7 linked regions of the Homo sapiens genome follow. Changing the gene in region 5 together with the main gene of any one other region gives a genetic interaction. Each region holds a gene or a part of one and is shown on either strand. Other genes may lie near its edges. The genes, in order: LUC7L2, WDR83, CSE1L, SNRPF, KRAS, TBCD and TKT.

Region 1 (4,608 bases), on a different chromosome or scaffold from region 5:
AGATTAGGGGACTTCACGCCCATCCTTCCCATACCCATCACCAATAAAGACATTTAGGAGTTCAGCAACAACAATGACAGTTGGGCAGATTTGACACAGGAAAATGTCTAAACCTTCCATCACCTAGCAGGATAATTCTGAAAATTCATTGTGCAGATAAGACAGGTAACTTTTAAAAAATGCTTATTTCTGAACACTGCACTGAGGGTAGACCCCCAAAATCAGTTTCAAGAGTGTGAGATAAGAGGCCTACAAATCACTCTGTCCTTTACAAACTCCCTCCTCATTCTCTGCATTTGCCTAGGATATTCACTCTATATGGAATATCTTTTTCCTAGCTGATTCTACCTGTTCAAATTTTACCGACTACCTGAAGCCATTTTTGATTACTCTGTTATTTGCCTCATCTAAACTCTCGGATCATTTATTCTATGATATGCAGTTTAGCACTTTATAACATGTGGTAGTCTTATGCCAGTCTAATTATTGTCAAAGATGTCAATCCTTTGTTCTAACTCACATAGGAGACTTTTTGTTTTTTTTTTTGTTTGTTTTTTTTTGTTTTGAGAGCTGGAGTCTCGCTCTGTCACCCAGGCTGGAGTGCAGTGGTGCGATCTTGGCTCACTGCAACCTCCACCTTTGTGTTCAAGCAATTCTCCTTCCTCAGCCTCCTGAGTAGCTGGGATTACAGGCATGTGCCACCATGCCCGGCTAATGTTTGTATTTTAGTAGAGATGGGGTTGGTTGGCCAGGCTGGTCTTGAACTCCTGATCTCAAGTGATACGCCCATCTCGGTCTCCCAAAGTGCTGGGATTATAAGCGTGAGCCATGGCACCCAGCCTCACATAGGAAACTTCTTAGAGCAACTTAAAGTTGTTCAACTATGTTATACGTCTTTCTTATGTTTTACTAAGTCTAGTACAGTAAAACATATACAATTAATTATTATTAAAATCACCTTAAGAAATACTAAAAACAAGGCCAGAATATAAGAAATAAAATATTGAGAGCCTATTAACAAACTCAGCTTGTGAGTGATTTCAGGGAATGGAAAGTTGAGTCAAAAAAAAATAGGAAAGATTTTAACAGCTTTCTGTGGATTTTATTATAGATTTTATGTGGAGTAATCCACAGAATATGTAAGACTAGTAGGTACTAGGCACTCAAAAAATGTTTATCATACATATACTTCTGAATAGTTGTCAAGAAAAAAGCAATTTTAAACATGGCTTACGTTACACAGAAATTACCTGGTTTAAGGGCCATCATGTGACCTGAGAAGTTTTGACAGTTTGATCTATACAGACTATGAATGCTAAACTCTTCTACCACATTATAATCCTTTGTCTATCCTTAATAGATATTCAAGTCCTCAAACATACCTTACCCTATGCCTGCACCTTTTGAATGTTCTCATTAAACCAAGGGAAGTCTTGGAACCTCCTTATTAGTCTGCCTTGCCAAGCTGAAGGTATGTAACAATACATATCTATAGTGCAGATAAAACAAGAATATACTAGAATGTGTCTGCTCTGAAAAAGCATCCCAGCTCAAATAAGTTTAGAAAACAATAAATCAAAGCTAAACAACTCTTGTAATGAAAGGACTTCTCAGAGCCCCTAATTTGCTGATCCATACTAAGGGTATTGGTATTTAAAATTATTTACCTGTAAAGAACTTTTTTCCAAGACACACTAAGCAGAGAAAAGCAATAACCTCTACACATATTGGTTCCAATTTCTTGCTCTGGCTCATAAGTATATTCTTTCAAAACTACCCATATAATCACAGAAAAATGTTGTACACCCACACATAAATGTGTACATATTACCAGATGCAAAAGTTTCAAACCAATAATCTGAACTCTAAACATAAGTAACATAAGTAAACATAAACAACTCTAAAACATTAAGGTAGCTCCATATCCTCTGATTGACACATCAATACCTCCTCTTGGATCGTTCTCTGCTCCTATCTCTAGAACTGTGCCGACTTCTCTGGTGGCTACGGCTGCGGCTACGGCTGCTGGAGCGGGACCTGTGGCGATGGCGTTTCTCCCGAGATTTGGATCGAGTTCTCCTCTTGCGTTCACGTGACATGGAGCGAGATCGATGTCTGCGATGCTCTCTGGACCTGGATCTACCAGACAAGATTTGATTTTGTTTCTACCTTTGTAATTACTATATTTCTCATTTATTAAAGCCTTTTCTTTAAAGAGAAACTTTTTTTCAGTAGTCTTAATGTCAATTATATTCCAAGTCAGCTAAATCTACACTGAATTGCTGGTGTGTTAATAACTACATACTAGAATTCAAAATAAAACATTAATAATTCTCAGCCAGGCGCCGTGGCTCACACCTGTAATCCCAACACTTTGGGAGTCTGAGGCAGGAGGATCGCTTGAGCTCAGGATTTCAAGACCAGCCTAGGCAACATGGCGAAACTCTGTCTCTATAAAACATACAAAAATTAGCTGGACACAGAGGCACATGCCTGTAGTCCCAGCTACTCAGGAAGCTGAGGTGAGAGAATCTCTTGAGCCAGGGAGGTCAAGGCTGCTGCAATGACCTGGTGATCACATCGCTGCAGTCCAGCCTGGGCAAAAGAGTGAAATTCTGTCTCAAAAACAAGACACTGATTGATAATTCTCAGAGAGCAATCAGTAATGTATAAATTTATTATCAGAAATAGTTTTTCAAGTGAAAGCAACTTTTGAACCACTACTATATGCCAGGGGCTATATTATCTAGATTTGTTATGAATTTAATTGCACTTAAATATCTTGAACATTTTTGTATCCTCTAGAAATTAAATATGTACCTGACAGACCTGGACAGAAGGGAAGAGAAGAGATGAGGAAGAATACGTCAGGACAAATTACTCTTTGTCTGAATTAGAAAGGTGAGATAACCATAGAAGTAAGTTTTTAATGCCCACAATATGCATGTCTAGTCACAGTGTAATCAAAACAGAGTAAGGGCCAGGGGTAGTAGCTCACGCCTTTAATCCCAGCACTTTGGGAGGCTAAGGAAGGATGATCACCCAAGCCCAGGAAGTCAAGGCTACAGGGAGCTGTGTTCACACCACTGCATTCCAGCCTGGGCAATAGAGAGCAAGACAAAACAAACACAGTAAGACAGTTCTCTATTCAAGGAGCAAACAGTTTGGGAGAAAGAACACTTGCGAAAATCATTTTTGAGAACTTGACTCAGATTGCAAAAAAAATGTATTTCTAATGAATACACAGAAATAGAGAACGAAAAACATTCTGAAAAACCAGAAAATATACGATCAAGGTGCTGGCAAAATAAAGACATTTTTTGAAAAGAAAAAAACCCACAAGGTAAGACACTTTTATAGCCTCCACCAGGTCACAAACTAACTTGTGGGGTGGGTGGGGGTGCATGGTGAGGGTGGAAATGGCATGGAGAGGACATAAACGTTTGACAGAAAACAAGGGGAAACAAAGGAATGCAACTTTGTTAGAAGAGTCACTTTAAGAATGATGGAAATGTTCTCAACTGGATTATGGTGATAGTTGCACAGCTTTAAATCTGCTAAAAAATCACTGACTTCAGAGTAAATCATATATATATATATATATATATATATATATATATATATATATATATATATTTTATACCTCAATAAAACTCTTAAATTTAAGTCACTTTAAGAATGTGAGGTTTGCTCATAATTTGATACAGCAAGTTCAAAATCATATTATACATATGAGATAGTTTACAAATACAGTTTATCTTCAACTGATTGTTATGAACGATGCTAAAAGGCATTCAGCTTATGTCAACATTATAGTCAAAGAAAGGTACATGACATGGACGTAGCTTTAGCCACACTTAAAAAGAGTATTTCTGGCTGGGCACAATAGCTTGTGTCTGTAATCCCAGCACTTGGGGAGGCCACAATGGGAGGACTGCTTAATCCTTAAACGGGAGGAGTTCAAGACCAGCCTGAGCAACATAGGGAGACCCCGTATCTACAATAAATTTTTAAAAATTAGCTGGACATGGTGGCACACGCCTGTGGTCCCAGCTACTCAGGACAGAGTGAGACCCTGTCTCAAAAAAAAAAAAAAAAAAAAAGCGTTATTTCCACAGCTGAAAAGAGTAATTCCAAAAGGAAGCAGAGGGAAAAAATATAAAACTCTCAGTGTAAGTTTTATCAAATCATACTTCGTTTAACCACTCATTTTGAGTTATTATGAATGCCATTTCTTCCAATGTATAACTTTATTCATCTTTTTAAAAATTCTAGGTAATTTTTTCATCCAAAAAATATTCACTAGGTATTTTTGCACTGTTCTATACTAGGGGAGGTTGAGTAGCAAGTAAAACAAAGTTCCTGCACTAAACTTAGTGCTTATACTATAGAAAGGGATCTATACAGGTTTGTAGGCAGTAAATAAAGATATGTCAGGTGGTTAAGAAAAAAAAAAAAGATCTATTGCTGGACATGGTGACTCATGCCTGTAATCCCAACACTTTGGAAGGCTGAGGCAGGCGGATCACTTGAGGTCAGGAGTTCAAGACCAGCCTGGCCAACATGGTGAAACCCCTACTCTACTAAAAATACAAAAAAAAAAAAAAA
Region 2 (4,371 bases), on a different chromosome or scaffold from region 5:
TCCCCGGGACTGATGTTCTAGTAGGGGAGATAGCAAACAAGTGACATCCACGTCAGGGGGCAGTCATTGCTACGGGGAATACTAAATGATGGCATGAGAAGAGAAAGGGGTGCTGTCCAACAAGAGGTTTTGGAAGGAGGCTTCTGGAAGTGTGAGCTGGGAGCAGGGGTTTGGGGAGGCATCTCCCAGGAGCTATGTGGTTGTCTCCCGTGCCAGGAGTTTGTGCTGCTGTACTAGCATTGAGCTTCTGGATTGCAAAGTTCCCAGGAGAGGGAACAGCCATTGCAAAGGCTCTGGGGCGCCTGAAGTAATCCAGGAACAGCTGGGTACCTGGTGAGGGGAAGGTGGAGTGGTGAGGGCCAGGAGGTGATGCAGGGAGGTGCCACAGGGAGCCTGCTGGGCCCTGTGGGCTGAGGCGGGGCTTTGGCTTTTGCACTGAGAGAAGTGGGAGAGGACTTGACTCGGGTTCCCATGCTCCCCCTGGTGGCCATGTGGTGAACAGATGGTGGCAGGTGAGTGAGAACTCCAGTCCAGGACAGTGGTGACCATGCAGGGATCAGGAGGCAGGCGGTGGTTGGATTTGGAGGGCTTCTGAAGATAGAGTTGCTGGCAGCTCCTGCCTTGCAGATGGGGCAGGGTTGTTGACACCTGGCTGTTGGGTCTGGGGAAACACAGCCATCGTTGCCCAGCAGCTCTAGTGACCCCAGACATTGACATGGGCCCTGTCTGGGAGCGAATGTCTGTGAAGGGCTTCCTTCATCTGGGACACACCTCTCAGCCTGTTTGGCTACGGTGTCCTCCCTCTGTGTCTGTCTCCTGTGACTGGCTGACTGGGCCCACCGTGCCCCCGCCTCCCCACAGCGGAACGGGGCCGACTACGCTGTTTACATCAACACAGCCCAGGAGTTTGATGGCTCTGACTCAGGTGCCCGACCAGACGAGGCTGTCTCCTGGGGCAAGATCCGGGTGGATGCACAGCCCGTCAAGGTAAGCGCTGGCTGGGTGGGGCATAGGGTCTCTGGGACGATGAGTGTGGGTCCCATGGCTTACCCAGGTTCCCCCCTACCCAGGTCTATGCTGACGCCTCCCTGGTCTTCCCCCTGCTTGTGGCTGAAACCTTTGCCCAGAAGATGGATGCCTTCATGCATGAGAAGAACGAGGACTGAGCGGCTGCGGTCCCAGGAAGGTCTTACCCCCTCTTCTATTTATTAATTTGCAGACCCAGCCCCTCCCCTACTTTTTGGTCAGCTACGTCTCTAGAATAAGATGGTATCTGAAGTCCTTCCATGTCTGTGTCTCGGTCCTTGGTCCTGTTGGTGGGTCCCCTGGCTTCAGCCTGCTCCATCCTCTGCCTCATAGGCCTCCTCTCGCCAGCACTGGACGCTGCCTCCCATGGCGGTCAGCAGGCAGGGCTCTGTTGGGTGGTAGGCCAGCGACTGCACCACACCGGAACCCACAGGCAGGGCCAGAGCCAGCGCACCCTGTGGAGCGAGGGGTAGGGAGTGGTTATCTGTGGCTGGGCTGTACCCTGGTTTCTGAGGTCCCTGGGCACCCCCCATCTCAGTCCTGCCTGAAGCCCTCAGTCACCTCTCCCCGACCTTCAGCCACCTGCCTCTAATTGCCTCCTAGACACTGCAAAATTAATCTACCTCAGACTGAGCCCCTCAGTAGCTCTGTCCTACCAGGTGTTCAGGCCGCAAGTCTTGGGAGCCTCTTATTGATTTTTTATTTTTTAAAATAGCAGAGATGGGGTCTTACCATGTTGCCCAGGCTGGTCTCGAACTCCTGGCCTCAAGTGATCCTCCTGCCTTGGCCTCCCAAAGTGCTAGGACTACAGGTGTGAGCCACCATGCCTGGCTTTGGGAGTCTTTTTCTTTTTCTGTTTTTTTTTGAGATGGAGTCTTGCTCTGTCGCCAGGCTGGAGTGCAGTGGCGCCATCTGGGCTCACTGCAACCTCCGACTCCCTAGTTCAAGCGATTCTCCTGCCTCAGCCTCCCGAGTAGGTGGGATTACAGGCACGCGCTACCATGCCCAGCTAATTTTTGTATTTTTAGTACAGATGGGGTTTCACCATGTTGGCCAGGATGATCTCTATCTCCTGACCTCGTGATCCACCCCCCTCGGCCTCCCAAAGTGCTGGGATTACAGGTGTGAACCACCATGCCTGGCCGGGAGTCTTTTTCTTGTACCACATGTTCCTCTATCAGTTATTCCTCTTGGCTCTGCTTCTAGACCATGTCCAGAGACTGCTGATTTTCTGCCACTACCATGTTTGGAGCATGCCTTGCTCACAGCTTGCCTGTTCCCTGCCACCAGCTGGGCTCCATCCTGTCCATTTGGCAGCCCCAATGATCCCCACTTCCCCTGGTCCCAACACAATGTAAACAGTTCCTCAAGCAAGCCATGCTTCCTCTTTCCACCTTGAAAATGTCCCTTGATGTGCCTGCCCTCCAAGGCAACTTCTGTTCTACTGGGCCCATAAGAAATAGGTGGAACATTCTTGCTACCTTAGTTCCTAAAGCAAGAGCTTGTCCGCCAAGTCTTCAGGGCCCCCCCGGTTCCCTCCATCCTCTTATGGGCCTTAGTTCCCCTGGCCAAGCCCAGCGCTGATGTCTCCTTTGCCGAGATTCCCCCGGCTCTGACCCCACTACACCAGGATGGTCTGTTTCTGGCCTGACTCCCCACCAGGCTGGGACATGTCAAGGACAGGGCTCAGGGCTTGAAACCATGCACAGGGATGCTAAGATGTAGCTCCAGTTTCTTGAATGACTGCAGCCCTATCTCACCCAAGGTTAGACATGGCCGTCGGCTCCCCCTTGCCCAGGGGTCAGTGCCAGTTGCTCGGCCTGGCATCTGCAGCCCAGCCTGACCCCGGATCTTGCCGCACCTGCCGCCACCCTGAAGCCTTTGTTTCCTGACTGATGCATGCGCAGGCTACACCTCTTAACATATGCTGTTCCCTTTGCCTGGAATGCCCTTCCTGCCTCATCTTCTCTCTAGCCCAAGCTGGGCACGGTGTCTCAGGCCTGTAATCCCAGCACTTTGGGAGGCCGAGGCGGGTGAATCACTTGAGGTCAGGAGTTTGAGACCAGCCTGGCCAACATGGTGAAACCCTGTCTCTACTAAAAATACAAAAATTAGCCAGGTATGGTGGTAGGGGCCTGTAATCCCAGCTACTCAGGAGGCTGAGACATGAGAATCACCTGAACCCTGGGGGGAAGAGGTTGCAGTGAGCTGAGATGGCGCCACTGCATTTGCCTGGGCAATAGTCTCAAAAAAAGAAAAAAGGGCCGGGTGTGGTGGCTTACGCCTGTAATCCTAGCACTTGGGAAGGCTGAGGTGGGTGGATCATGAGGTCAGGAGTTTAAGACCAGCCTGACCAACATAGTGAAACCCTGTCTCTACTAAAAATACAAAAATTAGCTGGGTGTGGTGGCACGCACCTATAATCCCAACTACTCAGGAGACTGAGGCAGGAGAATCGCTTGAACTTGGGAGGCGGAGTTTACAGTGAGCCAAGATTGCGCCACTGCACTCTAGCCTGGGCGACAGAGCAAGACTTGTCTCAAAAAAAAAAAAAAAAAAAAAAAAAAGATCCTAGCCTTCAGGCCCTGGAGTGACTGAGGTAAGGACAGGGCTGAGATGGGGCAGGCATCTAGGTATGAAGTAGGGCTGGGGGCACCTCACCTCCACCAGGTCCCAGAAGAACACCTTCCCGTCCTCAGAACAGCTGACCACATGTGTGTCACGCTCGCTCAGGCAGCAGTCCAGCTTGTATTCCTGGTTCTTATGGCCCTTGTACCTAAGGGTGGACAGGATCGGGGGGCTTGGTCCTCTCCAGGGGTGGGAGAGGAGGGAAGGGGATCCCCACGACCACAAGGACTCACTCGCCCAGCAGCTCCCCTGTGTCTTTGTCCAGGAGCCGCAATGTGGAGTCCAGGCTGGACACCAGGGTGCACTGCCCATCCCGGCTGAAGCAGGTGCAGGTGATGGGGCCTTGGGGGAAGGGTGGGTAGGTGAGTGAGGGTGGGGTGCCCCTGGTTGGCCCCCCATCTTCCCTGCCTGTCCCACATCCCCAGCCACACTCACTGCCCACGTAGTCTGAGAAGAGCTGCCCCATCCTTAGGTCATAGCGTCTCACGCGGCCATCCACGGAGCTGCAGGAGAGGGTAGATCCAGCGGGAACCTTGACTACACTCACATGGCTCCAGGCAGCCCTGTGCCTTCCCAGCCCAGTGGGCCTGCTCTTCCAGTGCACAGGAGTGGAATTCTGAAGCTCTGGCCTTGAGACTCAGGCCCAGGGCCAATTACGTCCTACTCCATCATTTCCAAGACCCACACCCCCTTTCCAAGCCCTTGGAGTCCTTCTGA
Region 3 (4,177 bases), on a different chromosome or scaffold from region 5:
AAAATAGCCAGGCATGGTGATGCATGCCTGTATCCCAGCTACTCAGGAGGCTGAGGCAGGAGAATCGCTTGAACCTGGGAGGCGGAGGTTGCAGTCAGCTGAGATTGTGCCACTGCACTCCAGCCTGGGCAAGAGTGAGACTCCGTCTCAAAAAAAAAAAAAAAAAAAAAAAAAAAAATTCAAAATAAGAAAAACCATTCGAGTCAAGTGCCTAAGATTAAAAAAGTTATCACCAGGCACAGTGGCTCACGCGTGTAATCCCAGCACTTTGGGAGGCCGAGGCAGGCAGATCATGAGGTCAGGAGTTCGAGACCAGCCTGACAAATATGGTGAAACCCCATCTCTAATAAAAATACAAAAATTAGCTGGGCGTGGTGGCGGACGCCTGTAATCCCAGCTACTCGAGAGGCTGAGGCAGGAGAATTGCTCAAACCCAGGAAGTGGAGGTTGCAGTGAACTGAGATTGTGCCACTGCACTCCAGCCTGGTCAACAGAACAAGACTCTTATCTTGGGGGTAAAAAAGAAAAAAAAAAGGGATATCGATAACTCCTGTGACAAATCACTTGAGCTGGGAAGACAAAAGTTCCAGTTTAACTACACTGAATGGACAATGAACAATTCCAGCATAAACTGTGCCTCACAAAATTTAGATATTCTGATTCTTCATTCCTCAGAAACGAATGCTGTACAATTCCATGGGCCAGGCCAAGGGAGGGAGCCAGTGCAACCAAGCTCACCAGGCATCCGGCCGGATCCACCACTGGACTGGACTTCACGGTTCTAAGGTGTCAGGGTTTGAAAAGTTCCAAGTAACCTCCACTCTCCAGGGAACAGCAGAGATGAAAGAGATCAAAACATCCACAGTCTCAAGTACTCTCGACCGCCATCCCATTAAGCGAGGCAGAGCATTTCTCCCAGAGGAGCCACCTACCCAAAACTCACACTGCCACCTAGGAACTGCTACAGAAAATTCTAGTAAATAAGCCCCAAATCTATATTAATGTCCCCTTCCCCCATATAAAAAAAAAGACTAAATAATCTGAGTTTACATGATTTAGAAATTAGGATTTTACAGAGTCCAGGAAAGGAAAAGGAAGAAATTTAAAGAAATTCTTCATTTTTATAAAAGCATGAGAGAGCACTGAAAACCTGCCCTTAAGATGTTCTTAGGTACATATTTTAGGATTTTTATTGCTGATTACAGATTTGAAACTATGAAATGTGCACTGCTTGGCAAGTAACACAAGTAATTCTTTACTTATTCACATTTCCAATAAAAGCGTAAATAAACAGACAAAAAATATAAAGGACAAGAGAAATACAAATAGCAACAGCTTCAAAACAAAAGGATTTAGTAACAGAAAGTCTCCACAGTGTCCGTCAAAATTTAAGATTATCCAAACCGTGCAAACGCTCAACACAAACCAACGCCATACACTGAACTATTAATACTTGTCCCTTGAAGTTGCAAACTAGAAGCCACCCACATAACTGTATGATCACACAAACCAACTAATTTGCTCAAGGTTCAGGTTAAAGCAACATTTAATATCCTTTACAAGATGGAATTCGTGACAAGTTCAAAAGGAGAACTTCCTTTGTTTTAATGCAGCTGTGCTCAGAAGCCTGTGATTTCCTAGGAAACCATCTGGGTTTAGCCCATTAGAAAAATGCAGTTTAAAGCAGTGTCACACTGGCTGCCTGAAGGTACCCTTGGAGATACTGGAGCGCTTCTGCATTCAGGCTGGTGCTCACCATTGATGGAACCTACAAGAGATGGGAAACACACACTGGCTGTTGGAGATCTTGGTGCGCCAATACAAACCCCATCTTCTACGGGAGAGCTGCCACAGCTCTGGGAAGAGCAGCCAGTCAAGTCATTAATCACCATCCAAAAATTCTCCAGAAACTCAACTGCTTTTATGCCTTCAAAAATAGGTCTAAAGAAAAGATCCATAAGGAATTACTATTATTAGGTGTGATAGTGGTATTGTGGTTAATTAAAAAGTCCTTACTGGTTAATGATGTAGAATAAGGTACTTACGCGTGAAACGTATGATGTCTAAGACTTGCTCAATACAGAGAATAAAAGGAGAAACGAAACAAAACTGGCAAGATATTGGTAATTATTGAAGCTGGGCACATGCAGGCTTCATTATGCTCTTTCTATATATGTTTGAAAGTCTCCGTAATAATACAATGAAAAAATATATATACATATATATACACACGCCACACACATATATGTTTTTTAAGAAACGGGACCTCGCTCTGTTGCCCAGGCTGGATTGCAGTGGCACTGTAATAGCTCACTGCAGCCCTGGCCTCCCAAAGCACTAGAACTACAGGCATAAACCACTGTGTCTGGCTTGAAAAATATATATTTTATCAGGTAACATGTAAGAACTCTATAATAAGTGCTGACAAAATGCAACTATACAGTCATTATTAGGTTTATGCCATGATCTATTAATTTCTGAGTATGCTGCAATTAAAAAAAAATAACTGTGTCCAGGCTCACACTTGTAATCCCAGCACTTTGGGAGGCTGAGGGAGGAGGATGGCTTGAGCCCAGGAGGTTGAGACCAACCTGAACAACATAGGGAGACCCTGTCTCCACAAAAAAATAAAAAATTAGCTGGGCATAGTGGGTCCTAGCTACTTGGAAGGCTGACAGGCAGTAGGATCACTTGAACCTGGGAGGTTGAGGCTGCAGTGAGCCATAATCGTACTACTGCATTCCAGCCTGGATAAGAGTGAGACCCTGTCTAAAAAAATAAATAAATAAAAATAAAAATAAAAAAATGCTACCACATTTTAATAATAGATGGATTACTTCGATCTGGGAAATAAACTCTTATTATAAAGTGCTGACAAAATGCAACTATACAGCCTTATTACATTTCTATTGAAGGGATTTTTCCTCCTTTGTTCTCACTCCTAAATCCATTCACTTAAAATATATTTGTAGTACATAATACAAGAAAAAAAGGGCTCAGTGTTTTTAATTAAAGAAAATAAGCTTGCTGTAACTCAATGAGATTTAGTTTTATTACGCCCACCAATGAAAACAGACACCAGAACTACTACTATCCTTTTGCCCTCCCATTAAAGTCTCCATTTATCACAGAGTTCTTTGACAACACACTTACCCTTCCTGGACAGGCGGTAGACAACTTGTGAAGTGACTGTGCCAGGTGAATTTTGGGGTTATTCACCATTTGACCTACAGGATCATGCTCTTTTTTCCCAGCAAATGCCAACTGTGAGAAGGCAGTCTGATATCCTGGTGTATCTTCTATGTCAATAAAATGTTCCTCATCAGGAATGGTATCATCTTCGGGTAACTCAAAAAGACCAATCAAAGACTGTAATAATGGAGTCCTGGATTGGAAGAAAGCAAGAGATAAAAAGGTCAAGAAAATACTCGGAAGACTTAAAACCAGCAATTGCTCAGAGACACAAAATTACAGACTCATAGTCTCAAGAATAAAAGGGGACCTTTGAAATTAAGATGGTTCTTTTCTTGGCTTATTCAGTTCTTCCCCTTAAAGATAAGTCAGTTTAGTTGGGCTTCTGTCATAAAATTGTCTTAGAGATCACCTAGATCAGACTCTTAAAGGGGTCCATGAATCCCCCTGAAAAAGAAGCAGGAAACAAGATCATTCTAAGCCCAGAAGGATCCAGAAATCATGTCTTGGATCTGATTGTGGAGAAGCTGAGATCAGACCAAGATTCTCTTGGCCCCCAAGAGAATAAGCTTTGTTAATTTTGCAGTCATATGGGAAGGAAGCTGTAACTTACAAAAATATTAAAATGAAGTACTTACCACAGTTTGGTATACTCAGTGTCCATCATTGGGGGACATTCTGTTAGTAATTTGGTTATGCCAACCGCACAGATCTTTTTCTCTACATTTCCAGATACCTTCTGAATTTCAGGAATAATAATTTTTTCCAAAACCATTCCAAACATTCTATTAAAGCAAAATAAATCAACTTAATATTAGATTATCACTATAATGAAATAGTAAAATGCTTAGATGTTAGTTACTTCTTATGAATATGATAAATTACTAAATAACAAGACTGCTGTTTTTGATCATCTGAAGAGACTGAAAGTCAAAACATAAAAAAACCCCATCACACCTCTACCCTGTAGCCAAATGCCATAATC
Region 4 (3,453 bases), about 71 Mb from region 5:
ATATATTTGAGTATATATGACCCAGAGAGAATGAATAGGTATGAACTCGGGGTTTCCCAAAGCCTCTTCTGTTGGGAACACCTCCAGAAGCCAACCAGTATTCAAGATGGTACATGGTTTTCTGGACTTTTTATTTAACAAGATTTCTAAATGCTAGTCAGGTGCTCAACAGGAGAAAGCCATCTCTTCCAACCATGGACGAAAAACTGGCTATGGCACTTACTGAGAAATAAAATGGTGGCCTTCAACATGGTGCTTTTCTAGGCTGACCACATTTGAACCATATACTATTTGATGACTTTACCTAAGTTTTCCCACTTCCCAATAAAACCTAACTGCTGTTCCTTCTGCATAGTTATTGGTGTCCAGTTTGCTACTCAACTTTGCCTAGCATGTTAGACATCCGTTAGGTTATAAGTCCCTTTTAACTGTGATTAGTTAATGTTACAAACCATATTATTCCTTGTAAAAATCAAGTTAATATTGGTATTTCACAAATTTCAATAGAAAATGGCTATGCTCAAAAAATATTAAGTATTTTGTTTTTCTTTTGTTTCAGTTGGGAAGACGACTTGTCTTTCATTCAAAACCTCCATCTGGTAACAAACAGCAGCTACCTTTAGTCAATGAAACAAAAACAAAATCACAAGAGGAAGAATATTTTTTTACTTGAATAAAAGCAGTAAGACATTTTATTACCAGAATGTCTTAGGTGTATTTTGTAAATTTTAAGTCTTTAAGTATTCATATCATAAGTATTATTCCATATAGCTAAACACTTTCTTCTATACTTTGAGTTGTCCCACTTGGGGATACACAAAGATAGTTTACTGATAAAACTATGGTAAATGAACACTGAAGTGTAATAATGGCCATTCTCTTACAACATGAGAATGTAAATGATGTATTTTCTCAACCCATCTGTAGGGAAGTTCATAGCATACTGTTATTACTATGGACTATACATTTTAACAATGTACAACCCTAAAATACCTGAAGGGTTTTGAGGGGCTTAAAACTCAACCTCGAGGTTATGTCTCAGAACATAATGGGGAGACTGGTTTTTATTTGACATTACATTTTGTTCAGAGAACTTTTTTCTCTTCAGTGAACAAACCGTATGCCTTCAGCCTGAATGTCAGTTCCCAATTTCTGTTGTGCCCTGTCTGTACAATCATTTTAATTTTTAGAAGATGCTTCAATTTTAGCTGCAATATGTGCATTTAGCTTATATTGACACAGAATTAACATGTAATTTATTGACTACTAAGTAAAATAAGACAGTATATTATTAATACCAAGAAAATGTTTAATTTTATACGTTAAAAGTAGCTCAAAAATAACTTTAAAAGAAAAAGTTGCATTTAAAAGGTCTCAGCTAATAGATAATTTTACAAGAAAAGGTCTGAAATTCACCTTCATAAAAATATCTAAAGCATATAAATAATTATCCTTTATGGGAAAAAAAAGAATATTGGGCTTACAAAAGAAAAGCAACTTAAATGAAATTCAGTGGCTTTTAAAGCATTAGTTCAGTGAGTAATCTTTCCCAATTGGTTCATCATTTCAGCTTTGCTTGTAAATATCTGAATACAAATAGTTCACAAGTCAAGTTGAAAAACAAACAAATCTTTATTGTCTAGAAATATATATAAAAAAAATCCCCCACAAAAGATGCTATTCTCTCATTTCCCCATCTTCTTCCTCTTCTTCCACACCTCTGATATAAAGGACATTATTACACCTGTAAATAGAAAAAGTCGATTTTGTTGTTCCAACCAGAAACCATGTATGATATGAATTACTATATTTTTATTATGAAAATACTGAATACTATATTTATAATATTCTTGTCTTTAAAAAAATTTTTTAAATATATTCATTTTAAAAAAAAGTTTCACATAGATTTGTTGAAAAGCACATGGCACTTATTTTCCACCATATGGTTGTTATAAAATGACATCTTTATGATTTTCCAAAGGAAATAATTACCAGAATTTGGAGCTTTGAAGCTAGTACAGAAAATCAATATAACAAAACAGCCAGACCCAACTAAAATTCAAAACTAAGTTCCCGCAACAAAGGCCACTGCAAAAGGTTGCCACTGCAAAAGATTATAGCTAAGAGCTAGAAAATTAAACATCAACACTAGAAAAATCTTTTGGCCAGTTCCAAAACATTTGAAAACTTACCTTTGACAAGTTTAACAATTTCAAAGACTTCTGAAGTCTAACTGTAAAGTATTATAATAGTGATTTTTTAAAAAAAAGTAATTCCAAAATTGAGGCACTAATATATTTAGAACAGGTATTCCTAATGCTCACCAGTAACTCCTTACATATACTACTGCTGTTTGTTACCTTATTAAAACTTCACCCAGATGTCCAGACAAAGCTCCATCTATGTATTCTTCTGTATTTGCAAGCTTTCAATAAAAAGAAATATATTAGTATAATCACACAGGAGGAAAATATTACAATACAGCTAATATTGGTGAGAGAACTCATTAACTGAGACCTTTCTATACCAACAACTCAAATTTATCTATAATTAATAAACAGAAGATGAGCTTTCTATTACTATTGTAGTACTTTTGGTTTCATATAAACCTTCAACGAAATTAATATTCAAAGCTTGTTTCAACATAAGTTTCTGAATCTCCCAGGTTATGTAATATTTCTTTCTATTAGATATTAAAACAGTGTGTGGAAGAAGGCAGTCTCTAACTCATATTGAGGTGTCCAAATAGGTATACGAAAGCTATGGCTAACATGCCAAATACTTTTATATTAGTCAACAACCAAAGCAAATAATTGAGTAAGAATTTTCTTCTTTTCCTGTCTTTTAAGAAACAGGGTCTCCCTCTGTTGCCCAGGCTGGAATGCAGTGGCACAATCATAGCTGACCAAAACCTTGAACACCTGGGCTCCTCCTGCCTCAATCTCCTGAGCAGCTAGGACTAAAGGCATGTGCCACAAAGCCTGGCTACTTCGAAACAATTTTTTCTGTAGAGATGAGATCTTGCTATATTGCCCAAGCTGGTCTTGAATTTCTGCCTTCAAGTGATCCTCCTGCCTTGGCCTCCCAAAGTGCTGGGATTACAGGCATAAGCTATCACATCTGGGCCTGAATAAGAATTTTTAATTATGTACTAATAAACAGGGAAAAACAAGTTCTTAAGAGAAAGGTAAATAGTTAACAGTGACCTTTACAGCTATTTTGGTGAACTACAGCAAAGTAGTGTGTTTCCCTTATGGTATTATTATGAATCGAATGTCTGAGCTCTTCTTACTTTACCTACAGTTATTTTGGTGAATTATTTCTAATTTTATATCAAAATGTTTAGCTTTCCTTCTACATATAGGTAACAAGCTCTACTTGTAATTAAAAGAAAAATCACAATCAATGCCACTTGGGACTCAGAGAAGGAACTAAGGAGTGATGGGAGAGAGG
Region 5 (4,608 bases):
AGCCCATTACTTGGTAACATGAATAAAATATTTTATGAAAAATAACTATTTTCCAAAACAAAACCAAAACTTAGAAAAGTGGTATTGTTTCACACTTCAGTAAATCTCTTTAATGATGTGGCTTAATAGAAGATATGGATTCTTATATCTGCATCTGCATTCAATCTATTATGATCACACATCTGGAAAACTTGTGAAAGAATGGGAGTTAAAAGGGTAAAGGACATCTTAATGTTATTATGAAAACAGTTTTGACCTCTTGCACACCAGAAAAGTCTTAGTAACCTGAGGGGTTCCTAGACCACATTTTGAGAACTGTTTTAGGCTATGCAAACTGGTTGGGGGGAGGTTGGGGTAGGCAGAGAGCTAGAAGATACATTTTAGTGTAATTCTCCTCATCTATTCCTAATTGCTTTGGCCTACATTTGAAATAAAGCGTGGAGGCAAACGGGATAAGATACATGTTTGTAGTGGTTGTTAACTTCACCCTAGACAAGCAGCCAATAAGTCTAGGTAGAGCAGAGTAAGGCGGGGAACTATGCCGTGACCGTGTGTGATACAATTTTTCTAGCCTGTGGTGCTTTTTGCGGCAGGGCTTAGGAGTAAGGTTAGTATGTTATCATTTGGGAAACCAAATTATTATTTTGGGTCTTCAGTCAATTATGATGCTGTGTATATTTAGTGTTTATCTACAATATATGCACATTCATTAATTTGGAGCTACTCATCCTATAATAAATAGTTGTGCATTTACTCCCATTTTTTTCTGCATTTCTCTCCTTATTTATAATTATGTGTTACATGAGGGAAAGGAGGTGAAATTAAACATTCATATTATTTCAAAAAATTTGAAACAACTAACTAAAAAATATGTTTTATTTTCTGTATGGTGTTTGTTATACAATCTGTCAATATTCATGCACCTCTTGGGAGACAGTGTATGAAAAGCAAAGAGTAACAGTCACATGGATTACTGATTACTGAGATATATTCACTTGCATCTTTTTTTTTTTTTGAGACGGAGTGGCTCTGTCGCCCAGGCTGGAGTGCAGTGGCGTGATCTCGGCTCACTGCAAGCTCCGCCTCCTGGGTTCACGCCATTCTTCTGCCTCAGCCTCCCAAGTAGCTGGGACTACAGGCGCCCGCCACCACGCCCGGCTAATTTTTTTATATTTTTAGTAGAGACGGGGTTTCACCGGGTTAGCCAGGATGGTCTTGATCTCCTGACCTCGTGATCCACCCTCCTCGGCCTCCCAAAGTGCTAGGATTATAGGCGTGAGCCACCGTGCCCGGCTCACTTGCATCTCTTAACAGCTGTTTTCTTACTAAAAACAGTGTTTATCTCTAATCTTTTTGTTTGTTTGTTTGTTTTGAGATGGAGTCTTACTCCGTCACCCAATCTGGAGTGCAGTGGCGTGATCTGGGCTCACTGCAACCTCTGCCTCCCGGGTTCAAGTGATTCTCCTTCCTCAGCCTCCCCAGTAGCTAGGACTACAGGAGAGCGCCACCACGCCTGATTAATTTTTGTATTTTTAGTAGAGAGAGGGTTTCACCATATTGGCCAGGCTGGTCTTGAACTCCTGGCCTCAGGTGATCCACCCGCCTTGGCCTCTGAAAGTGCTGGGATTACAGGCATGAGCCGCCGCACCCGGCTTTCTAATCTTTATCTTTTTTTGTGCAGCGGTGATACAGGATTATGTATTGTACTGAACAGTTAATTCGGAGTTCTCTTGGTTTTTAGCTTTATTTTCCCCAGAGATTTTTTTTTTTTTTTTTTTTTTTGAGACGGAGTCTTGCTCTATCGCCAGGCTGGAGTGCAGTGGCGCCATCTCGGCTCATTGCAACCTCGGACTCCTATTTTCCCCAGAGATATTTCACACATTAAAATGTCGTCAAATATTGTTCTTCTTTGCCTCAGTGTTTAAATTTTTATTTCCCCATGACACAATCCAGCTTTATTTGACACTCATTCTCTCAACTCTCATCTGATTCTTACTGTTAATATTTATCCAAGAGAACTACTGCCATGATGCTTTAAAAGTTTTTCTGTAGCTGTTGCATATTGACTTCTAACACTTAGAGGTGGGGGTCCACTAGGAAAACTGTAACAATAAGAGTGGAGATAGCTGTCAGCAACTTTTGTGAGGGTGTGCTACAGGGTGTAGAGCACTGTGAAGTCTCTACATGAGTGAAGTCATGATATGATCCTTTGAGAGCCTTTAGCCGCCGCAGAACAGCAGTCTGGCTATTTAGATAGAACAACTTGATTTTAAGATAAAAGAACTGTCTATGTAGCATTTATGCATTTTTCTTAAGCGTCGATGGAGGAGTTTGTAAATGAAGTACAGTTCATTACGATACACGTCTGCAGTCAACTGGAATTTTCATGATTGAATTTTGTAAGGTATTTTGAAATAATTTTTCATATAAAGGTGAGTTTGTATTAAAAGGTACTGGTGGAGTATTTGATAGTGTATTAACCTTATGTGTGACATGTTCTAATATAGTCACATTTTCATTATTTTTATTATAAGGCCTGCTGAAAATGACTGAATATAAACTTGTGGTAGTTGGAGCTGGTGGCGTAGGCAAGAGTGCCTTGACGATACAGCTAATTCAGAATCATTTTGTGGACGAATATGATCCAACAATAGAGGTAAATCTTGTTTTAATATGCATATTACTGGTGCAGGACCATTCTTTGATACAGATAAAGGTTTCTCTGACCATTTTCATGAGTACTTATTACAAGATAATTATGCTGAAAGTTAAGTTATCTGAAATGTACCTTGGGTTTCAAGTTATATGTAACCATTAATATGGGAACTTTACTTTCCTTGGGAGTATGTCAGGGTCCATGATGTTCACTCTCTGTGCATTTTGATTGGAAGTGTATTTCAGAGTTTCGTGAGAGGGTAGAAATTTGTATCCTATCTGGACCTAAAAGACAATCTTTTTATTGTAACTTTTATTTTTATGGGTTTCTTGGTATTGTGACATCATATGTAAAGGTTAGATTTAATTGTACTAGTGAAATATAATTGTTTGATGGTTGATTTTTTTAAACTTCATCAGCAGTATTTTCCTATCTTCTTCTCAACATTAGAGAACCTACAACTACCGGATAAATTTTACAAAATGAATTATTTGCCTAAGGTGTGGTTTATATAAAGGTACTATTACCAACTTTACCTTTGCTTTGTTGTCATTTTTAAATTTACTCAAGGAAATACTAGGATTTAAAAAAAAATTCCTTGAGTAAATTTAAATTGTTATCATGTTTTTGAGGATTATTTTCAGATTTTTTTAGTTTAATGAAAATTTACCAAAGTAAAGACCAGCAGCAGAATGATAAGTAAAGACCTGTAAGACACCTTGAAGGTCATGGAGTAGAACTTCCATCCCAAGCAGATGAGGATTTATTTAATCTCAAAGACCTCCAGGAGGGGACATTCCCCAACTGTCCTTGTTAACTCATTTTCAGAACATATTTATTAGCATATTTTACATGTAATTTGGATCTTCATGTTAAATTTAACATCAGTGGAGATGGAAAATAAGCATATCGCCTTGTCTTTGAAATAGCCCTATATTGTTAGATTGTTTCTTAGGCTTCTTTACCCTGGGTTAAGCAGTCCTAATACTTTAGCATTTATTCTACATCTAGTGTACTAATTTAAAAAAATCAGTTCTGAAAAATTTCTAAGAACTTTCTTCAAGTTCCAAGCTGTGAAATCTAGAACAGGTCAAAGTGCCTTATTAACGTACTGTACTGTGTAGTGTCTTGAAGAGACACTTTGCGCTGAGGCAAGTTCTGAGGGCATTGGGTGGCCTTGGGAAGATATTTATGCAGTTTAGAACCTGGAGAATTGATTAGATAACTAATCATAAGGAAACGTCACATATTTTTGGTACTATAAAAAAGTGGAGAAATAATGCCTATTTGCAAAGATTTGATTTAAACATAGAAACAACTTTATTTGGCTTCCAATTTTAAGAATTTACAGCAGTAAAGGGGAACAGTCTAATTGAAGTAGACTGCCTATGCAATAGTCTCTGTATATTTACTTTTGACAAGTTAATTCAATGTGTACTATAGTTTTGTTTCTTTGAAGAGGTTTGAATAGTGCACCCATTTTAATCTGTATTGCAAATTCAGGGTTACTTGGCAGACTCTACTATTTAAATCAGATGTAAAAGGAAGTTTTAATATAATTCACTTTATGCCTGAAAGTTTTCCTGGGATTTTGGAAGGTGATTTTACTGGAAATGCTGTCTGTCTTCCCTGAAAATCTGAGAAATTCCATTACACTTTGTTTCCAATCAGAGGTCATGAGTGCTATATGAGTATATACAGCATGACGTCATGAATGTGATAAAGTGGGTTAGGAAACCTTTTGCTAATGATTGTTAAAATGCAATATAAATGTTGAAGAAATAAAGCTAACAGTTAAGCCTTTATTTGGGCGGAAGGCTGAAAAAGTTTATAAACTTAAACCTATAACTCTGCTTATGATTTCTGCCAAACCAGAAGACTTGACTCTGGGAAGCATTGGTTACCTGTGAACTTTGAAACTGACGGTCCCTGACGTAGTTTAGTCACCTGGG
Region 6 (4,608 bases), on a different chromosome or scaffold from region 5:
TGAATGAGAGCAGAGTGGGGAAAGTGCAGGCTCAGGTGTCCTGGGCCAACCGGTATGTTCCTGGGAACAGCAGTGATGGTGTCTTACACATATGGGCATGGGCACCCATGCTGGCTCACACACATGCTCACTTGCACGCGCGCACACACACACACACACACACACACTTCTAAAAGGGGAGCAGTCTCGTCACCCCGTGTTGGAGATCAGGACTGAAGCAACCAGAGGCTGTGTGGGTGTCCACATGGCATACCCGGGGTGGTGGAGTCCCAGGTGTCCTGCCTGTGGATGCTGCTCTGTTTTGAGTGCCGACTGTGAGGGCCTCCGTGCTGATCCCGGTGCGTTGCTACAGGTCTGTGGGGTCCACGCCCCTTGTTGAATCCAGCAAGGACGTAGGTGACGTTCCCTAGGTGTCTCCTCGGAACAGTGACCTTCCAACAGGGCTGGGTTCCCATAGAGCTCACGCACCAGGCAGCCGCTGTGGCCTCGGAGGACAGAGGTGGCCTCTCCAGGGCTTCCGCGAGGTTTTCTGGTTTGGGGAGGAGTGTGTGTCTGCTCCTAAACAAACACGTGGTCCCAGGAGAGGAACCGGGAGCAGCTGGGCTGTCTTCTCAACATGCGTTGAGAGAATGGCCATCTTAACTACTGCTCTGGAGACCCGTTTTTACAATGATTTTTTTAAAAAAAAACACCAAGGTGCATTCTGGACCAGATTCTAAAATAATTGGCTTTAGGACTGAAGAAGCCAGGTGTCCCGAGCGGGGCGAGGCCTCCTCCAGCGAGGCTGGGTCGGGGTGGCCTCCTTTCCTCACATCAGGGAGGGAGGAACTAGCAGGGTGGGCCTGGGGGCTTCTCCTATCGTTTAATCCCCTTTCTGTTAAAAAAAAAAATCCTTAGAATTTAAAGAGAATATTTTAAATTAGAAACGAAAAACATGCCCCAGATATCTCCACAGCATTGCTAGAATTTTTATTTCGCATCAACAGCTAAATTAAAACCTGGAAAACCCTTGTCAGCCCCTCCTTGGCCTCGCTTGGTCTGTCCTCCCGCAGTCCCTGCGCTGGGCGTGGTCCTTCCCGAGGGGCACCCCTTGTTGGGAAGGAACCGTCCTCCTGCGATTCCGGAAAGGGCTCAGGCTCGAGGCTCTGCTGGAGAACGTGCTCCTGTGACGTCTTTTCTGCCCTCAGCCTGGCTATGGATGTCGGGGGTGAGGTCTCCTTTCCCTGACTGCGGCCATGGAAGCTTGACGCGGGACCTCCGCACACCTGAGGTTCTCCGGTGGGCACTCGAGAGACTCACGGCTCTCCCTCTCCTCACAGGGACGCGGAGCTTGCAGTGGTGAGAGAGCAGCGCAACCGTCTGTGTGACCTTCTGGGCGTACCCAGGCCCCAGCTGGTGCCCCAGGTAACCCTGTCACCTTCACAGCATGAGGTGCCTGTGCTTCCCTGAGCTCTGGAATGTTCTGGGGCCAGCGGCTGTGCTTAGCTTCTGCCAGCACGTCCACACGGCCCGTTCCCTCGTCTCATGTCAGGACCCCTGGGATTACGGGACCAGCAGAGCTGCCTTCTCTGGCCACTGCCCACACCTGTGGGCCCCTGTGGCATCCAGGCCACTTGCTCTGGGGCGTTTGGGGGGCCGGGGAGTGGGTGGAGCTGGCACCAGCTTGATCCAGGCTCCTCATGCCTGGCCCTGGGGTCTGTTTGTGCTCCAAGTGCCAAGAGTGCCACCCTACCCCTCCTCATCTGCTTCCCATGAGTGGGGCCGGGGCTGGGTGAGAGGCCCCCAGAAGCTGCCCCTGTGCACCTCACCAGCCCGTCACTCTTCTAAAGTAACAAAAACAAGTACCTCAGTTCTCTCGGGGGCTGGGGCCCAGGGTTGCTGTGCTGTCTCTCTAGTTACCAGGGTTGGCTCCTTCCTCTCAGCCTCCTTCCGGCAGGAGGTTATATCTGAGAGGGAGGAGGAGAACCATGTCTAGATACATGGGGGCAGTGGGGATGGGCTGAGCATCAGGACACAGCCTCCCCCATTTCTGTGTGTGTAAAGGCTGAACTCAACAGCAGACTTTGGAATTAAATGTGCTTTTTACATTTTTATTAGGAAAAATTTCAAACGTGTGAATGCAGGTTAAGAGCAGTGCAGTGAACCTCCCTTCCCGCTCCCCAGATGGGGTGCCCTTCCGAGGACACGTTAGTCATGAGCACCTGTCAGCCACATAGCTCAGGCTGCCGGGTGTGTGGGAAACGGCACAAATGGTTTCCTGCAGGAACCGTGTCAGTCCCCACACAGGGCCCAGAGGGGTGAGGGTCCCCTGGCTGGGAATGGTGTGTGTTGGAGCTGACCAGCCTGAGCTTGTCTTGTCTCTTCTTCAGCCTGGTGCCTGCTGAAGCCAGTCCTGGAGCCCATACCTCACCCCTGCCTGGTGAGGATGTCTTGTTCCTGAGGGAGGCCGGTGTGGAAAGCCTCGCACAGTGGTGCCTCCAGCTGTTGAAGGGTAGCGCTGGCCCTTGGAGGCTGGCACTAGCTGACAGCTTTTCCTCTCTGCACCTGCGCTCTGGTGACTTGGGGTGGACGCCTCTGCCTTCACTTGAACACAAATGTGCTTCCTATAAAATCATGTACCAAGAAGTTCCTGCCTTTTGTCTCTGAGCCTGATGTGTGTAGGGGTGATGGAAAGGCTCACTGCCCAGGGGTCAGCCAGAGGGGAGGTGGGCTGCACTCCTCCTGCCTGGAGACCAGGCCCCCTTCTTGCCTGGTGCTGTCCCTGCTGTGGGAGACGTCTGGCCACAGGCAGTGCCCCACCCAGTCTTGGAGAGAGATGAATGTTAAATCAGAGGTTCAAATGCTAGAGAACTGAGAAGCCCTGGTGGCAGGCATGGTCTGGAGTGCTGGGCAGATGCTGTTTCTGGGCCCGTCTGCCTGGTGGGGGTGCTGTCCTCCCCCCTGTGCACACGTGAGCATCGTGCATGTGGCCCCTCTGCAGTGCAGGAGTCACTGATTGATGGGTGTGCCGACCAGCAGCTTCACAAATGTCTGCTGCAAGGGGAATCGTCAGAGTCCAATGTGTGCCTCTACAGTAATGTCGGAAATAAATACCATTCTTGAAATAATTACACTGTCTTAGGAGAGCCTGGGCAGAGTCCACACTTGGGTTTTTAGGCAAAGGGCAGGAGGCTACCTTTGTCTCTGTGTCTGAGCTCGTGCTGATCCATCCCAAAGCTGGTGAGGGGAACGTGTATAAAAATTTCACTGTGGTAGCAACCCACACCCATCTCTGGGACCTGTGCTGTGCTCATAGGGCTTGAGGTGCAGAACCACGGCCAGCAGCACCAAAGCAGCCCCAGGTGTGGCCACTCAGAGGCCCAAGGGCTTGGGTGAGCAACCCTTTCCCTATGTGAGGAGCCCAGGGGTGCCATGTGCGTGGTGTAGATTAGGGTGGCTCCCTGGCCTGCTCTCAGGTGGGGATGGGGCCTGGACACAGGAACATGGGCAGGCCGAGAACTGGGAGGTGCCACCGCATCTGTGAGGCTTGTGAGGTCACCAGGACCACAAGACCAGGACTGTGACAGTCCGTGCTGTGTGTTTAGCAGACAGCTCTTCACGGGATGTGTGTGACGACCTGGCCACACAGGAGTGTGGGGTTAACACACTACTGTTGTTGTGTTTGACCTGGTGGCCAATGGTCTTTATACCCTAAAAGAGCCTTGGGTTACATTTTTACGAGATTTAAATATTTTATTCCAACCTGTGTAATAGGGGTCTCCTCCTCCTTGAACTGTCCCGATTGGCTGGGGTCACGTGGTGAGGGTCCTGGGTGACCAGGCCTAGCCTTGGCCACATGAGTCCACACAGTGGAAAAGGCTTGGCTCCTGTGGTCGGCACACACGAGACTCTGGTTGCGCCTGCTGGGTGTGGAACAGGCGCACCATCGCCATGCCTGCAGCTCACAAAGCTCCTGCTGGCCTGGGATGCACTGAGGATGGAAGGAACAAGTGGCTTCTGAGAAAAACATGATGAACTGTTCTTAGTGCAATTAAAAGAAGATTCCAGATAAATGGCATTTTAAGACATGGAGGCAGGTCGATTACCCACCCAGACCCATCAGTGACACTATGTGGCAAAGCAGTTCTTCTTTTAATGTCGGTCTAACTTAGCAACCCGAGGAAAGTGGATCACTCCACTGGCCACTGCCTCTTTCCCACTGGATCCCATCCATCACTGGGGCACTTGTGCTCACCAGACACCTGGTGGCCTGGAAAGCCCTCTTTCAGCAGCCGTTTCTGGAGCCCACCAGGGTCCAGGTGATAGAGTTTGGCAAGGAACCCCTTGCTCACATGATAGCTGGGGCAGACAATAGCAAATGAACAAGCAAGCACCATCAAGGCAGGCAACACTGAGTGCTATGAACAAAGATAAAGTGGGCAATGGAATGGCATGTTGGGTGTTGACTCCGAGAAGGTGTTCAGAAAACCTCTCTGAAGGGGCAGCATTTGGGCAGAGGTCCAGACTGTGTCCAATGGCAGAAAAGAGAATGCTTGTGGTCCCAGAAGTGGAGCAAGCTTTGTGAGTTTAGAGAGCAGCAAGAAGCCAGTATCCCTGGGACCGGGGAGC
Region 7 (4,608 bases), on a different chromosome or scaffold from region 5:
TTCTCTCTAGCTGTGAGCTCTTCAAGAAAGAACAGAAAGAACGAAAGAAAGAACCCCAAGACCTAGCATGCAGTGGCCGCTCAGTTGATGACTTTGGAGGCCCCTTCTCCTCACCTTTCTTCAGCAGTTCGGCAGCGGCCAAGGCCTCGTGCAGGGTCACCCCAGCCCCGATAACGGTCACCTGGTCATCCTTGCTCTTCAGGACCACCTGGGGGTGACACAGAGGGTGAGTAAGGCTCAGGGCCCTGGGGCAGGGTGTGCCCTGACTGCTGGGAGTCACAGCAGGGAGGGTCCAGGCAGCTCTGTGGGCTCCTGGGGCATGCGAGGCACTGACCTTGGCTTGTCCGACCTGGAAGTCCTCATTGTTGTTATAGATGATGGCATTTTCTGGGCGGCTGGTCCGGATGAAGCAGATACCCTGAGACCGAAACAGATAAACTGAGGATACAGGATGTGGCACACCCAACCTCAGAGACGAGGTCTTTCTAGAGAGGCCATCCCTTCCCATGGGAGCGTTAGTTACTGCATCCTGGCTACTCCAGCAGGGAAAAGGGCCTTGCTTGCCCTCTGCCGCCCGCACCCCACTTGAACACTCTGAGAACTGCCCACCACCTTGCAGCCTCAGACCGAAGGCAACTTTCCACCAGGTAGACTGGCTGCAGGTGGGCTACTCCCACAGACTGCACCAGGCAGAGGGGCAGGAACCACGCGCACTGGGTCTGTGGCATGCAGCTCCGGGCCTGGACCACAGGGCTCAGCTCATCCTTGCCTGTCTTGGAGAACCCAACTCAGGAGGGTGGAGAGGTGTCAACCGCTGGACCGGCCAGGGCTGCCAGGATTCTCAGCAGAGACAGACTGGCAATCAGTTGACAATGTCTGCCACGTGGCAGTAAGTGGGGTGTGTATTTCGTTTTTTCTTGTCTAACTTCCACAAGCTACACGAACACCAGGGGCAAGGTCAGGAAACACCCCCTGGGGCAGCAAGTGACCAGCTCTGGCCTCCTCTTCTGTTTCCCTTGGGAAGTGATGGCTGCCAGCAGGAGAAAGAACAGCCATGCAACCTACCTTTGTATTGGCGGCTAGTTCCACTGCCTTCTCTGTAGCAACGCCATCACTTGGGTAAAAGACAGTTGATGTGGGGACTGACCGAAACATAGCCAGATCTTCTAGGGCCATCTGGGAGGGCCCGTCTTCCCCTGGGGTGTGGGGGAAAGGATATGCAGAAATAAGACCCCTACCCCCCCATCCATGGGCTGGAATCCTGGCCCATCCCCCTCCCATACCTCCTGGTGCAAAAGTCAAGGGAGCTCCAGGTGTAAACACCCTGGCTAAACTCACCGATGGAAACGCCGCAGTGGGAGCCGCAGAGGTTGATGTTGCTCTCGGAGATGGCGGCCATGCGAATCTGGTCAAAGGCCCGCGTGAAGAAGGCTGCAAAAGTGCTGCAGAAGGGCACCGTCCTGTTGCGGGTGGCACAGCCCACCGCGATGCTCACCTGGGGGCAGGTGGGACAGGGTCAGCCCAAAGGGGCAGGCAGAGGGTGGTCGGGGAGCCTAGGACCCCTTTTGTGGAGAAAGCCACAATTTGTATATAGATTGTCCATCCTTTCTGGGCTTCTGAATATGTCCCCCACCACCTTCTTCTGCAGAGACCGGTCCTCCCAACCCCTCCCTGGGGTCCGAGGGCAGCAGCCTCATGCCTGCTGAGGCTCCAGGCCCCAAATCACTCATCCAGAAGCAGCACTGAGTACAGTCATCAGTTCCAAACCAGCTGCCCTTCAAGGCTCCAAAATCTGCCAGCCAACACAAGGCCTCTTTCCCTAGTACCTGGGACCTCCCCAGCCCCACGCCCTGCAGAGCAGTCTCTGGAAACCACAGAGAGAATTTCAGGTCCAGTTGGAAGAACTCTGGAGATCTGAGTGCCCTCCAGAGAGAGGAAGCTCCCTGTCCCTAGGGGCCTGCAAGCCAGGCTGGGCTCCTGGACCACCAGGAGGGGATATTTTGAAAACATGGACAAAACATTGTTCCTTACTTCACAACCTCAGTTCCTGACAAGGGTCTGCTTCCCCAAATGGGTACATGTCAGGGGCCCAGAGTTCCCTCATCTCTGCATCCCTCAGGGTGGCAGGGCCCAGAGCCGTGTGCATTACAGGTGCTCTACAGACTCGGGCTGCTAAACCCATCACGGCCCCACCTACTGGCCAGGCCTGTCCTCCACCTGGAAGAGACCCCATTCACCACCAGGCCTGGCCTGTACGCAGCTCCTCCTGAGAGCACCTGCAGTCCCATTCGGCTCCCCCATGTGCACACCTGTCCAGGACATTTGCACCTGGGCAGAACCTCCCAAACTGTGGCTGTTCAAGGTCAGGGGTTAACGCTGGGTCCTGGCTTTTCTTATAGTCTCCCTGGGCTGGCCTACAGCAGGCACCTGGCTCTGCCAACATGGCTGCCCCGCACCCCTCAGACCACAGCCCTCAGCCTTGGGTGGACCTGTCCCTGCCGGCCCCAGCACCTACCATGTTCTGCTCAGCAATGTAGCACTCGATGAAGCGGTCCGGGTGCTCCTTTTTGAAGATCTCCGAGAAGGTGGAATTTTTGGTGTCCCCATCCAGGGCGATGATGCGGTCACTGGCATGGCCCAGCTTGGCCAGTGCCTGCCCGTAGGCCTTGCGGGTGGCTATCTGTGAGGAAGAGAGTGGGAAGGCTCTGGACCCCTCTGAGGGTGAGTGCACACCTGCAGCCTGGAGCCCTGCTTTCAGAGAAGGATTAAAACGGGGCCAAAAATGGAAGCCCTGGAGCACAAGGTCCTGCAGAGGCTTTTAACTGCTGAAAGGTTGCCAACGACTACGGTCAATGTCTTGGGAGCCCCTGGAGCCCCGGCCCCTTCTGGCTGTGAAAGGTATAAGCTACAGAAGACACCCACCAGCCCCAACTTCCCGCCTGCTGCACCAGGTCCATGAACCTATTCCACTTTGCATGGGAACACAGAAGGCTTGGGAGTCAAGGCCAGGCACAGGCTGCATGGATGGGTTCCCTTGGGACAGAAACCTGGAGTGGGACAGCTCTGCCTAGCCTTTCCCAGGTCAGGTGGGGGTCCTGAGCTCAGGCCAAGGGTCCCTCGTGGACCAGCGATGCAAGAACTTGGGAGTGAGTCCTTGGCTTTGATCTCAGTTCTGTCAGTAGCTTGCTAAGCTTGCTAAGTGGGCAATTCCCTTGCCCGGTCTGAGCCTCTGCAGGTCAACTCCAGAGATGTCTGTCATTCTGAGGGAAGTGACAGGAACAACACCTCAGGGATCACTCCTCGCCCTAAATGAATCGCTCTCCTCCCTTTCCCAGCCCTCCAGAGGGTGTATCTGGGCCACAGACTTGGGAAACCTGAGAACTATGGGTTCAGAGAAACAGGCCCCACTTTGTACCTTGTCCCCAACTTTGTAGCTGGGCAGGCTGGGCATGCGGATGTTGGCAATGTCCACTGAGGGTGCGTCCTCCTGTGGAGGGGTTGCCAGGATCTTCTTTTTGCTCTGGATCTGGCTGTAGATCTCCTGGATGATCTGCTCAGCCATGTTTTTGGGGAGGGGCTTCCCATGCCAAGACTCCTTATCTTCTACCCCTGCAGACCCAACACGGGAGGACAGAGGAATGGGTAAGACAGAAGCTCCCAGAGGGCCAGGAGGCTGCTCCAGGAGACTGGCCCTCTACCTGCCGAGGGCAAGGGAGGAATGGCATCATCCCAGACAGGCAGAGCCCAGCCAGGCACGGGGGCCAGGAAAGGAGGGTCGCAGTGAATAGGATGGACTCCTACGTGCCCACCACTCACTGTCTACTGCCTGGTCCTTTGGGAGCTCACAGCTGAGTGGGAAAGGAGGGGCCAGACGTGGGCAGGTGTGTGTTTCTGGGCCCACTGCCCCATCCCTTCACCAATGTGTCCATTCTCTTCCTCCCCACAACCCCGCCTGCAGGGTCACACACAGGTAGAGGTGTCTGCTGCAGAAATACTCAGTTTGTCGACTGGGTTGGAAGGGACCCTGGCCATCAGAAGGGGAACCCAAGGCCCAGAACAGGGCTTCCAGGGTCACCCAATGCATCTGTGAGCAGCAGAGGAGTCTATAAGCACCTAGGCATGCCCACCCCATGGCACCTTGTTGTGTGCGGCCAGGAAGGCTGAATATCCCTCTCCCTGGAGGTCACCTCAGTAGTCACTAGAGTCTGGCCAGAGCCAAGAACAGACTGAACTCCCAGGTAGCACCCAGCAGCCCGAAAGACTAGCAGGAGCCCCCAAGAAGCTGCAAGTGGTCCAGATCCTGCCCATTTTTAACACCAGAGGGCAGTGCCAGGCAGCAGCACCAAAGCCATGACAATATCCCAGAGCCCTTTCCTCGACATCCACCCCCTCCCAGACACCTCCCAGCACTGCCAAACCCCCACTCAGAACATCCTCATATACCTGAGTCTACATGGGCAGAACAAGCCACAACCCCTGAGAGCAGGCAGGTGGGCAGCCAGGGGCATTTGGCAGGGAAGCCGACCCAGGCCCTGGGATCAGCCCCCCTCGTGCCATAGACTTCCTCTGTCCCCGGGCAAGTCCCTGACCACTTGTAGTCTCATTTTC

Evidence for each region.
Region 1: changes in KRAS (region 5) and LUC7L2 are lethal when combined (synthetic lethality), as found in Homo sapiens cells (2 studies listed by BioGRID, with this or other methods).
Region 2: changes in KRAS (region 5) and WDR83 are lethal when combined (synthetic lethality), as found in Homo sapiens cells (3 studies listed by BioGRID, with this or other methods).
Region 3: changes in KRAS (region 5) and CSE1L are lethal when combined (synthetic lethality), as found in Homo sapiens cells (2 studies listed by BioGRID, with this or other methods).
Region 4: changes in KRAS (region 5) and SNRPF are lethal when combined (synthetic lethality), as found in Homo sapiens cells (3 studies listed by BioGRID, with this or other methods).
Region 6: changes in KRAS (region 5) and TBCD are lethal when combined (synthetic lethality), as found in Homo sapiens cells (3 studies listed by BioGRID, with this or other methods).
Region 7: changes in KRAS (region 5) and TKT are lethal when combined (synthetic lethality), as found in Homo sapiens cells (2 studies listed by BioGRID, with this or other methods).

What each region holds. Positions count from the first base shown.
Region 1 is NC_000007.14:139,415,069-139,419,676, reverse strand, and holds part of LUC7L2 (putative RNA-binding protein Luc7-like 2), read right to left. Parts: intron 2,216-4,608; exon of another isoform or gene 2,140-2,215; coding exon 1,948-2,139; intron 1-1,947. Other genes in the region: FMC1-LUC7L2 readthrough protein, read right to left, coding at 1,948-2,139. UniProt on the Homo sapiens protein: May bind to RNA via its Arg/Ser-rich domain.
Region 2 is NC_000019.10:12,672,633-12,677,003, reverse strand, and holds the end of WDR83 (WD repeat domain-containing protein 83), read right to left. Parts: intron 4,158-4,371; coding exon 4,090-4,157; intron 3,997-4,089; coding exon 3,888-3,996; intron 3,803-3,887; coding exon 3,688-3,802; intron 1,482-3,687; coding exon 1,332-1,481; 3' UTR 1,213-1,331; downstream 1-1,212. Other genes in the region: DHPS (deoxyhypusine synthase), read left to right, coding at 862-987, 1,071-1,166. UniProt on the Homo sapiens protein: Molecular scaffold protein for various multimeric protein complexes. Acts as a module in the assembly of a multicomponent scaffold for the ERK pathway, linking ERK responses to specific agonists.
Region 3 is NC_000020.11:49,093,940-49,098,116, reverse strand, and holds the end of CSE1L (exportin-2), read right to left. Parts: intron 3,978-4,177; coding exon 3,831-3,977; intron 3,386-3,830; coding exon 3,154-3,385; intron 1,942-3,153; coding exon of another isoform or gene 1,930-1,941; exon of another isoform or gene 1,769-1,929; coding exon 1,679-1,768; 3' UTR 1,168-1,678; downstream 1-1,167. UniProt on the Homo sapiens protein: Export receptor for importin-alpha. Mediates importin-alpha re-export from the nucleus to the cytoplasm after import substrates (cargos) have been released into the nucleoplasm.
Region 4 is NC_000012.12:95,864,296-95,867,748, reverse strand, and holds the end of SNRPF (small nuclear ribonucleoprotein F), read right to left. Parts: intron 2,426-3,453; coding exon 2,361-2,425; intron 1,745-2,360; coding exon 1,678-1,744; 3' UTR 1,609-1,677; downstream 1-1,608. Other genes in the region: CCDC38 (coiled-coil domain-containing protein 38), read left to right, coding at 560-673. UniProt on the Homo sapiens protein: Plays a role in pre-mRNA splicing as a core component of the spliceosomal U1, U2, U4 and U5 small nuclear ribonucleoproteins (snRNPs), the building blocks of the spliceosome.
Region 5 is NC_000012.12:25,243,322-25,247,929, reverse strand, and holds part of KRAS (GTPase KRas), read left to right. Parts: intron 1-2,534; 5' UTR 2,535-2,545; coding exon 2,546-2,656; intron 2,657-4,608. UniProt on the Homo sapiens protein: Ras proteins bind GDP/GTP and possess intrinsic GTPase activity. Plays an important role in the regulation of cell proliferation.
Region 6 is NC_000017.11:82,940,080-82,944,687, forward strand, and holds part of TBCD (tubulin-specific chaperone D), read left to right. Parts: intron 1-1,319; coding exon 1,320-1,404; intron 1,405-1,410; exon of another isoform or gene 1,411-1,426; coding exon of another isoform or gene 1,427-1,975; exon of another isoform or gene 1,976-1,998; intron 1,999-2,069; exon of another isoform or gene 2,070-2,369; coding exon 2,370-2,384; 3' UTR 2,385-4,608. Other genes in the region: uncharacterized protein LOC124904095, read left to right, coding at 1,427-1,975.
Region 7 is NC_000003.12:53,227,942-53,232,549, forward strand, and holds part of TKT (transketolase), read right to left. Parts: intron 3,610-4,608; coding exon 3,416-3,609; intron 2,681-3,415; coding exon 2,516-2,680; intron 1,496-2,515; coding exon 1,339-1,495; intron 1,197-1,338; coding exon 1,066-1,196; intron 419-1,065; coding exon 335-418; intron 209-334; coding exon 115-208; intron 1-114. UniProt on the Homo sapiens protein: Catalyzes the transfer of a two-carbon ketol group from a ketose donor to an aldose acceptor, via a covalent intermediate with the cofactor thiamine pyrophosphate.